Homo sapiens: one gene and its partners. The protein of the gene in region 1 purifies or fractionates together with the protein of each later gene. This does not show direct contact. Each region holds a gene or a part of one and is shown in the gene's direction. Other genes may lie near its edges. The genes, in order: CDH2, PC and SPTBN1.

Evidence for each region.
Region 2: the proteins of CDH2 (region 1) and PC fractionate together in Homo sapiens (co-fractionation; one large-scale study listed by BioGRID). This does not show direct contact.
Region 3: the proteins of CDH2 (region 1) and SPTBN1 fractionate together in Homo sapiens (co-fractionation; one large-scale study listed by BioGRID). This does not show direct contact.

The regions. Positions count from the first base shown.
Region 1 is NC_000018.10:28,170,509-28,174,162, reverse strand, and holds part of CDH2 (cadherin-2 isoform 1 preproprotein), read left to right. Parts: intron 1-3,654. UniProt on the Homo sapiens protein: Calcium-dependent cell adhesion protein; preferentially mediates homotypic cell-cell adhesion by dimerization with a CDH2 chain from another cell. Cadherins may thus contribute to the sorting of heterogeneous cell types.
Region 2 is NC_000011.10:66,874,760-66,878,413, reverse strand, and holds part of PC (pyruvate carboxylase, mitochondrial precursor), read left to right. Parts: exon of another isoform or gene 1-104; intron 105-3,654. UniProt on the Homo sapiens protein: Pyruvate carboxylase catalyzes a 2-step reaction, involving the ATP-dependent carboxylation of the covalently attached biotin in the first step and the transfer of the carboxyl group to pyruvate in the second.
Region 3 is NC_000002.12:54,462,758-54,466,411, forward strand, and holds part of SPTBN1 (spectrin beta chain, non-erythrocytic 1), read left to right. Parts: intron 1-3,654. UniProt on the Homo sapiens protein: Fodrin, which seems to be involved in secretion, interacts with calmodulin in a calcium-dependent manner and is thus candidate for the calcium-dependent movement of the cytoskeleton at the membrane.

The DNA.
Region 1 (3,654 bases):
TACAAGCTAAATATAATTGAATATTCAAAGGACTCTGTGCCTTGAATTGTTAACTGAAGTGTCTGTGTACCTTATTTTACTTAGAGAAATTACTAGTTTAGTTAGTCTTGTTATGTAGATTTACATAATTCTAGTCAATCTTGCATGTTATGATGTTCAACATCAAGATTTTCTTTAGTCTTATTTTAAGATGTTAGCCTTTTTTATATTAAAAAATCCGAATTTGAGCATTCAGCTTACCTGATAAAAGTATAAAATATTATATCACAAAGTTATAACTAGCTTTCCTTTTAAATAATACAAGTGACTTTCAAATCTTTACATAGGTTTATTGTTAAGAAAAAAAATCAATGTTGCTTTTACCATTGACCTAGTTAATTAATATATTAGAAACCTGTGTTGTTTTTCTAGTTCACATCTTAATTGCATAACCCCATTGTTCTAATTTAAATACGTTTGTATGGGTTATGGGGCATCTAGGACAGTATTTTAATGTTCATAGAAATTCATTTCTAAGACTTAACAGATCCTGGTTTCAACCCTGCGTGAGGACCTTGGAAAAACGATGGATAAACCTTATGTGTTTTTCACCTATTAGGTACAGATTTTAAAGAAATTAATATTCAACATATGAAGTATACATAAAAAGAAGCAGCTTTGTTCTAGAATGTGGCAAGGATTCAGCAGTGATTTTAAGTGTAAATCGTGTTTATTCTCAGTATTTATTTGATTTTCATGTGCTTTTGAAACATAAGTTCTTGTGAAAATAAGAAGAGTTAACTTGGTGTTCAGAGTTTACTTACTAGACACAGTTATGTATATTTCTTTGCTTTTCTTAACTTGAGGCATGCGGTCATTACTAATAGGTGAAAGGTTACAAACATACTAGGTGTAATTTGAAAAACAGTATTTTATGTATCCTCACTTGTTTTTAAAACACTATATATTAAACCATAGGTACTTTCTGACTTTTATACTTTCATCAAAGTCTGCCCTAACCTTCTAAAAGTTCAGACTGAGATTTTACAAGGAAATACTTTTTAGATATTTCTTGCTTTTTACATGTAGAGACTAAAATCTTTCTGGAGCAGATTATTTTCATGATGGTATAGAGCACCAAACTGTCCTTAATTTTCTTTTTCATTAACAATTTCAATTCTTAAATCTGTTGTGCCTCATTAAGCTTTAGGGTTATTAATAGGGAAATGTCAAGACTTAAAGCAACAGTTAATCTTGCTTTAAATCCTATTTTTTTTAATCCTAAGTGATTAAAATCCCCATCTTCTTTTCAAGGGGTTATTATGAAGTTAGAAGAGTGATTTTTAAAAATCAGAGCTGTTATTTAAGAAGTGTTGTGTTCGTATATACACTACCATTTTTCCCAGGTTAACATTCAGATTTGTTCTTTTGGCTCAAATACAAAAAAGTAATCAAGTTTAGGCACTGCTTAGATTTGGTGGTGGTTTTTGTCAGCCATTTAAAAATGTGATAGATTTTTAAATTTGGATTTTGTCATCTGAATAAGTATTTCGCTCTGACAGCAGTATACTTGCTAGAACCTAAGTATTTTCAAGTTAAGAGTTTTAAGTTGAAACATAATTGGTACCAACAAATCACTGTGTCTCACATTTCTGTTTTTTTCTACTAAAATTTTATTTTTATTTTAATTTTTCAGAAAAAGACATCAGTTAATTTGAGCAGATGCTAGTCTTTGTATTTAACTAAATACATGTAAGTTTTAATTAAACAACCTTATCCATGCCAAGGAAGAGGTATATACATATTAATGTTTTAGTAAGAGCTATATCTTCTGCATGTATGAAGTGATAGGTCTAAAGTAGGCAGAACAAGGTGAATTCACAAGCTAAATGGGACTTTTTGAAAGATGTAGATTTAAACATTATGATTTATGTTATAATAGTCTCTTTAAGGAAAATTTAGATTAAATTCTGCTTAGATTTTTATTCCTTGTCGCTCACTCTTTGGTACTCAGTGCACTTCCTCATCTGCTTCCAACTGTACTTACAGCCCCCAAGCCCTTGGATTGCATACACACACGCACACACACACACACACACACACACACCCCAAATGTATGTTGAGGACTGCTATATACATATGAGTCTCCTGCAACACTGAGTACAGTCTGATATGAAGTGTCAATCAATAATTGATTGATTACTTTATGTCATGAAAGGTGGTTTAGGCACCAACAGTATAATAACTGATCTGTGTAAGTGAATGCCCTTGTGTAGTGTCAAGGGCAAGAGCTAGTGTCCAGGGCAGGAAGCATGGGGTTCTGATTTCGTCCAGATGTAGTCTACTCTCTTAAAGTCCCGTGACCTCATTTTCCTCAACAATAAAATCTTGGGCCTAGTTGGATTAGTTGATCTCTAAGAGACTGTCCAGTTGCATGATTCCTGGGGCTACTTAAAAAATATCTCAAACACATCTCCTTTTCGAAGGTTGTGGAAAGGCTTTTTTCAGCCGAAAATGTAAGAATTTTCAGATACTTGGAGTGATAGAATGTGAGTTTTGAAGATTTATTAACCGTAGTTTATCGTGATAGGTTTAAAGTCATCTATATTTTTTATATGCCTGAATTTTAAACTTAAAATTTTCTTCATTGGCTGTGCTACCTTTGCCAGTAAAAGTAAACAATTTTGGGGAGGGGTTTAGGCTTAAAGGAAGGTAAGTGTAATATTACTGAGAATAAAAATTATTTTTAGGCTTAAAATGAAGGTAAGTGTAATATTACTGAGAAAATTTTTTTTATTAGTTTTATGAGCTCATGTTTCTTTGAGAGAAGATAGCCTTCAGGAGAGCCATTGAATTGAGTGATAGGGGGTCAACATTAAAAATATAAGTGGGTCAGCATTAAAAATACAGCTCTAGCCCTTTGTCAAGTTTTCCTCTAGCTTTTTTTTTTTTTTTTTTAAAGACAGTCTCGCTCTGTCAGGCTGGAGTGCAGTGGCACAGTCTTGGCTCAACTACATCCTCCGTCTCCCGGGCTCAAGGAATTCTCCTGCCTCAGCCTCCTGTGTAGCTGGGATTACGTGTGCCACCATGCCCAGCTAATTTTTGTATATTTAGTAGAGATGAGGTTTCACCATGTTGGCAAGGCTGGTCTCGACTCGAACTCCTGACTTCAGGGAATCCGCCTGCCTCGGCCTCCCGAAGTGCTCGGATTACAGACACGAGCCACTGCTCCTGGCCTCCTCTAGTTTTTTTTTTTTTTTGGTACAGGTATGCATGTATTTATGACAAACACATGGTATAGATACATATACGAAGATATTTATTGAAGCATTGCTTATGATTACGAAAGATTGGATTATTTGATCTCTAAAAGTCCATGAGTAAGAAATGATTTAAGAAATTATGGCATAATGTTAAGCTAAATTTAATAACCCCTGCTGTAGGGAACAAAACATTTTCTACTAGTTCAGGTTCAAGAAAGCGATTGTTAAGCCACCTCATGTTTTGGGAATAGTCATGAACCTAAAAAAGCTACAGAGGGCCAGGCATGGTGGCTGATGCCTGTAATCCCAGCACTTTGGGAGGCCAAGGCAGGTGGATCACGAGGTTAGGAGATCAAGACCATCCTGCCTAACACGGTGAAACCCTGTCTCTACTAAAAATACAAAAAATTAG
Region 2 (3,654 bases), on another chromosome or scaffold:
CTGAGGAAATCTCTTTCTTTGCATGGAAAAGGCAGTGGGGAGTGAGTGTGGTGTGGACAGGGGAGGAGAGCAACAAAAATGACCTGTTTACCCACAAACCACGGGTAAGTGCCCCTGTGGTCGCAGGGTAAACCCACCCAGGTGGGAGGAAAGGACTGGGGCTCCCTGGAAAAAGCTTGAAACTGCCCTGGAGGTTTGAGAATCTCGGTGCCAGTGGGCTGCTGCCAGCTGTGAGGCTGCTCACCTATAGGCAGGCCAGCAGGTGAGGAGGGGGAGGGTGCTAGGCTCCTGGGAGACACATAGCCAAGTCCTCCCACCCAAGGAGTCGGTGTAGCAGGAGCTCCCTTCGCCTTTTCCTGCGGAGCTCTTCCTGTCCCTTCTGTATATTTCTTCTTTTTTTTCTAATTATAAATAACGCATCCCCAATGGAGAAAATATGGAAATTTTCCATATGGAAATATAGAAAAGCATAAAGAAGGAGGAAAACACAACTCTACAGCAATTCCATAGCACGTGGGAGTGAGGAGGGTGGCATGCAAGCAGTCCTACAGTTGTTGCCATTCCTTTAAAAAAACTTCATGAGATCATGTTGTTTACCATTAAATTTTCTTGGCTTCACATTACATCACAAGCATTTCCCATGTCATCAAAACCTGTGCAAACACATTATTGTTAATGGTTACATAATGTCTGTGGGAGCCAGGGTGTGGAATCTTTAAATTGCTTCTCATGATTTTCTGTTGTAAATAATGCTGCTTTGAACATCTTTCTGCGTACATCTTGGTTCCCATTTTGGAATATTTCCTGGGGTTGGATTTCTGGAATAGTAATGACTGGGCTCAGGGGCATAACCCGCCACCATGCCTAGCTAATTTTTTTGTATTTTTTAGTAGAGATGGGGTTTCACCGTGTTAGCCAGGATGGTCTCCATCTCCTGACCTCGTGATGCACCCGCCCTGGCCTCCCAAAGTGTTGGGATTACAGGCGTCAGCCACTGTGCCCGGCTTTTTTTGTTTTGTTTTGTTTTTGAGATGGAGTCTCGCTCTATCACCCAGGCTGGAATGCAATGGCGCGATCTCGGCTCACTGCAACTTCCGCCTCACAGGCTCAAGCAACTCTCCTGCCTCAGCCTCCCGAGTAGCTGGGACTATAGGCGCCCACTATCATGCTGGGCTAATTTTTGTACTTTTAGTAGAGACGGGGATTCACCATGTTGGCCAGGGTGGTTTTGAATTCGTGACCTCAAATGATCCGCCTGTCTCAGCGTCCCAAAGTGCTGGGATTACAGGCGTGAGCCACCGCGCCTGGCCGGGCATAAATACCTTAAAGGCTCTTGATAAGTTTTGCAAACAGCTTCCCGGAGAAGCTGCCGTGATGCTCAGCAGTGCCTGCGGGCCGCCTCCTGAAGGCCTTCCTGGCGCTCAGCACTGCATTTACAAAGCTCCCAGGCAGGAGTGGCACCTCATGGTTGTATTTTGAATCTCTTGCTTTCTCGTGGGTTCAAGAGCCACTTGTGTTTGCTGTCTTGTTGCTGTGCTTGTCCCGAAGGCTCCCCTCGCCTCTTCCTGACTTTGCCCTATGTGGTAACTTGAGCTCTTTTGACATGGCCTTTCCCAGCGCTCAGCAGAGTAGACATTTGGTGCCCAGGAGGAGGGTGAGATTTACACCCCACACCTGCTCTCTGATGCCAGTGCCGCCTGCTCCCAGCTGGGAAAGACCTGTCCTCCTAGTGGGCAGCATCCGATAACTCGCCTGGAGCAGGGCTTAGAGGATTGTAGATCTGCATGTGGGAGATAGCAGGGTGATAACGTCTGACGTTCATCCTGCTCTGAGCAGGGTGTCTCCACACCTGAGCTCCTCGCTGGTGCTCCCGGCACCTCTTGAGCAGCAGGTGCTGGGGCATGCACTCCCTAAGGTTATCTCCTCCAGCGGCATTAGCGGTGGGTATGGTTCTTTTCACTTGTCAATTTGAAATGATTTCAGACTTTCAGTAAAGTTGCAAGAGTAAGACAAAGAATTCTCGTACCCCTGACCCCAGTTCCCCCAATACTAGCATTTGCTTCATTGTTCCCGTTTTTCCCTGAACCATGTGAGTGGGTGTAAATTGCAGATGTGGTGCTCGTGGACCCTTGAGTTCCTCAGTGTTTTTCCCTAAGAATGAGGCTGTTCTCTAACATAACCACAGTCCACTGATCAAGATCAGGAAATTGATATCAACGCAATCCTCTTTCAAACCTGCAGACCTTATTTAAATTGTATCGTTGTCCCCTGATGTCCTCTTAGCAATAGAAACCCGGATCCAATCCAGGATCGTGTGTGGCTCTCACCATTGTTGCTTTGGTCTCCTTTCATCTGAAACCGTTCTTGCGTCTTTGTCTCTCACGACCTTTGACATGTTTGAAGAGTCCAAGCCAGTTATTCTGTGGAATTTCCCTGAATTTGAGTTTGCCCCTTGCTTTCTCCTGATTAAATTCAGGCCGTGCACGGCAGCGGGAACCCCATCAGGAGGTGTGTGGTATCCCTTCGGTGCTAGTGATATTAACCTTCATCTCTCGGTCAGCGTGGTGTCCGCCAGGTTTCTCCACTGTGCAATGAATAAGGACAAGGTATATTTTAGAAAGAGGAGGAGCCCAGAGTCCAGCAAGGTTACTCTACCCACGTTCACCATAGCCGGGTGTGACCTGGGTGCCTCCTGGTCACCGCAGTGGCCCCTTCCCAGCCCCCATCTTACCCTGCCTCTGGGAGTCATGCTCTGCCCAACTCGCGCCCCATCCTCCTGAGAGCCGCTCGCTTCTGCCCAGCGACCCGTGCGTCCCTCCCTCCTCCAGGCATCCCCCCTGGGCTCCTTCTTGGCTCTTCCTCCTCGGCCAGACTCAACTCCAGTGGGCCTGAAGACGCAGGCCTGACCCACTTCTCCCAGGCTGTTCTCTCCCTGGCTTCAGACACCACCGCCCCTGTGATGCTGCCCAGGTTCTTGTCCCTGCTCTTCCCCCTCTGTGAGCTTGCCTCACTCCCAGCCCTGCCTTTTCTGTCTTGCCCTTCTTATAGCAGGAAAAGTCATCTCCACCCACCCATACAGGATTTCTTCCTCTACCTTGCTTTCTATGGGGGGTCTCTCGACGAATCTTGTCTGTCATAGCCCAGATGTTTCCTAAGCCCCACCCCGACCCCCATAGCTTCCCCCTGTCAGAGGCTCCGCGTCTCTCAGCTCAGCCTCTGAATTGCCCCAGACATGCGTCGTCTGTCAGCCCCTGCTGCTCGCCAGTCCAGAGAGATCCTTTCCACTGTGCATCGATCATGTCCCTCCTGTCCTGTCCATGGCTGAAGGGAGGCCTCAACCACTGGGCCCTGTCTGTGGCTGCAGCCCCACCTCAGGCCGTGGGCTCACACTTCCCTCTCTCAGGACAGCACCAAGCCTGTTCTTCCTGAGAACTTCACAATTGCTATCCCTTCTTCCTGGAGCTTTCTCTGCGGATCTGTGCGTGGCCGACTTCTCCCCATCCAGGTCCCAGCTTCTGTGTCCCCTCCTCAGAGAGGCCTTTTCTAATATCCAGCCCCCAAACCCCTGCACCCGCCCCAGATCATTCGCAAAATGTCACCTGTTTCTTATCTTCCAGGCACTTGTGATCTGAAATGTTCTGATTTGTGTCTTGT
Region 3 (3,654 bases), on another chromosome or scaffold:
AGATCTAATTTTATAAAATGGAAGACTTAGATGAAATCATAGTGGGGGTTAAAACATGGCACATGCCATCACTCGCTTCTGTTCCTGGCAGACATCGAAAATCAGTAATGGTACTCTTTTTCCACTGAGCTGAGATAGTCTCAGTCATATTCTCGACATGGTGTTCTAGGCAGTAACTACCACTCGATTAAATCTGGCATTCAGTTTTTAAGCTCCTGTACACTTCTAAATTCTGTGATTATAAGATACTTGAGAAACTCATCACCTTGGCAGTGTTCAGAATACAGTGAGACTGGAAGAAACTAGAAGCAAGGAGACAGGAGAGAGGTGACTGGGGGTCCAGAAGTAAAGGGAGCAAGTTACAGTGGTGGCCAAGGGAACAAGGAGAGGAGAGATGGGAAAATGGTTGTGAAGGCCCAATCCTATGCGAAGCTATTTGTAGGGTAAATGGATGGCAGGATGGATGGGAGGTGGACCTAGTGGGTGACGAGCTAAGCTAAGGTGATAAAGATTTCAAATTTGAATAATGACAATGAGCATGTTTGGTGATGATGACAAATAGACAAGTCAAGTGCATGATTGGATATTTGATTGGGAAGAGTATCAGTTTTGCTTTAAACATGTTTGAGTTTGAGGTTCCAGCACAATCCTCAGTGGAGCTGGAGAGAGGTCATGGCTAGAGAGGCTGATGGGAGGCTTTGGATGGAGGGGCCCTGGGCCCCAGGCTTCAGGCTCTTTACACAACCCACCCACCTCGCTCACACGCTAAGTGACCTTGGGCAAACTGCCTAGACTTCTTTGTGTCCCTCAACATCTTCATCTGTAAAATAGTCGTAATGAGAGTATCTACCACATAGGATTATTAAAGCCAAATGAGGTAATTCAGCGCTTATCACAATAAATTTTAATGATTATAAAATGTGGAATTTTTGCTTAGTTTGACTTAATATTATGCTTTCTTTCAAATAAACAGTTTGATTTGTTTAGAAAAGGTATATTCTAGCAAATAACAATCATTTAGATAAATAATGCTAAGTTCCATCTGTATTAAACCTGTTCCTATACATCATGTCAAAATAATAGGAAAGGAAAATCTGATTTATATATATGTATTTTTTAAACAAACAATAAAATGCTAAAGCCTTAGTAGCTAAGGAAATGATATGAGCAGATAGTTTATAAAAGAAGAAATCAAGGAGGTCGATAACTGTAAGTTCAAACTCACCAGTGTATGAAATACAGACTAAATTAATTAATTTTTCCACTTAATGGATAGATATTATGCTCTGGGCTGCTGTGAGATGGGAGCTCTGCATCACCTGTTGAGAGCATATTTTGATTAATACAAACTTAGGGGAAAACAGTTGGGTTATATATATGTAACAGAAGCCTTAAATGCTTATACCTCTTGAACTGAAATCTCACATGTAGCTTGGTAACCTACAAAAACAATTAAAAATAAGGACAAGTTTTTAAACAAGGATTTTCTTGGCAACATTAATAGAGAAAAGGGGAAATGTTTTTTAATGGAACATAATCAAATAAATTATGGCGCAACTGTAGGGTGGAATTCAATGTAGTGCTTAAAATAATGGTTTGGAAGAATATTACTGAGATGGGAAGATGCCGGTAATACAGGGGTTAGTGGAAATATCTGGATGCAAAATTGTATAGTGTACTATAATCCTGGTTTTACTGTATTAAGTAAAAGACTGGAAGGAAATACATTAAAATGTTAATGGTTTGCTTTGGATGGTAGGTTGATGGGTGATTTCCTCTCTTGTATGAAAGGAAATTCCCATGACTTAATGTTTCTCTTTTTGAGTTTTGAAATATTTCACGGTAGAGAAGAATGCAGTAAATAATATAATAGATGACCATGAGGACCATTTGTTTTGGTTTGTTTGAGGAACTTTTTTTTGTTTTATTTTGTTTTCTTTTGTTTTGTTTGAGACAGAGTCTTATTCTGTTGCCCAGGCTGGAGTGCATTGGCACGAACATGGCTCACTGCAGCCTTGACCTCCTGGGTTCAAGCAGTCCTCCTGCCTCAGCCTCCCAAGTAGTTGCAGGCGTGTACCACCACACAGGGCTAATTTTTAAACCTTAAATTTTTTTATAGAGACGAGGTTTCACCGTGTTGCCCAGGCTGGTCTTCAACTCCTGAACTCAAGTGATCTGCCTGCCTTGGCCTCCCAAAGTGTTGGGATTACAAATGTGAGCCACCGTGCCCAGCCTTGGGCACCATTTTTTAATAATCAAAAAAGCAATCAACACTTTAAAAATTCTAATTTTTAAAAAGGAAAGAAAAAAGTAAATCTGTCCAATTGTAGATCATTATTAAGAAATAGTTTTAAATCCAGCGATTGTTATATCTGTCCTTCTTTGCAGTTTTCTAAGAGCAATGATACAGTGTGTAAGTTAGCATCTTAAGGGTATAGGTGTGAGATAAATTAGTGTATTCAAATGTATTAATTCTCTACACTAACCTAGGCAGCTTGAAAAGAGCAGAGGACCAGGGTTCTTTGGTATTTCCAGTCTCCACACTTGAGTGCAGAGCAGTGGAATTCCATGACGTGCATGTTCTCACTCGTGGAAACCTAAACACTGCTACTGGAGCTAGTTTGTAACCATTAGACCATCAGGTTTCAGTGGAATTGGTCAGAAATGAAGGTAAAATTCCAAGTGAACATTTTAAAATAAAAATCACTTCAGATTTAGATTTACTTTCAGTGAATGGTATCTCAGCATCTGGGAATATTGTAGGCTAAGATTGAGAGGAACTAATTTTAATATTCTTCGTTTTTTGTATGAAAAGAAATTCCTGTGCAATGTTATATTTTTGTATATATACATATATGATGCATACATATCATGTTTATCTCATATATATATATATATATATATATATATATCTCACACATGGGAGAGAGAGGTGTGTGTTTGATTGAGTAATCTCTACCACGAAGGGAGGCACATATTTTAAAACATTTTAAATGGGGAATTTTATAGAGACAGTATTTTGAAAAGGAGTCCCATGAATGAGTCAAGTTGTCCTTAGCCAGTGGAGGAAATGTTTGGGAGGGAATAGTACTTTCTATTTTATGGTCCAAGTCTCTAAGTGTGTTGGTACTTTGTGAAATGTAGCTTATAAAAATTAATGAATTTCCATTAATTTTGTATTTTTTCTGCCATCAGCTTTAACTGAGTGGTTGTTTGAAGAAGCTTTCAGGATTAATTGTGCTTTGACATATAAAAATAAGATGTTATCAAGATTGCTTTAAAACTGACCCTTGTTTATAGGAGTCATACGTCCATTCTTAAGAAACTCTCAACTGTGACAGTAAACATCTGAGTGATTTTTAGAACCATTTTAATATCTCTGCTCTAGAATCGAGAATGCCCTGTTAGTTCTGATTTTTAATATACAAATTTGAAGCCACTAGTTAGGCAGTAAAATATGTATTAGAACATAACTATAGATTTTTACCCAATAGATCAATTAGTATGAAATTTAGGATGATATATAAGTACAACAGAATTTATTCCTTTGAGGTATGTATTTTCAAAGTGTAATTTGTGTAATTAAGTATGTTTATTCTTCGAGACCATCCTGGCTAACACGGTGAAACCCCGTCTCTACTAAAAATACAAAAA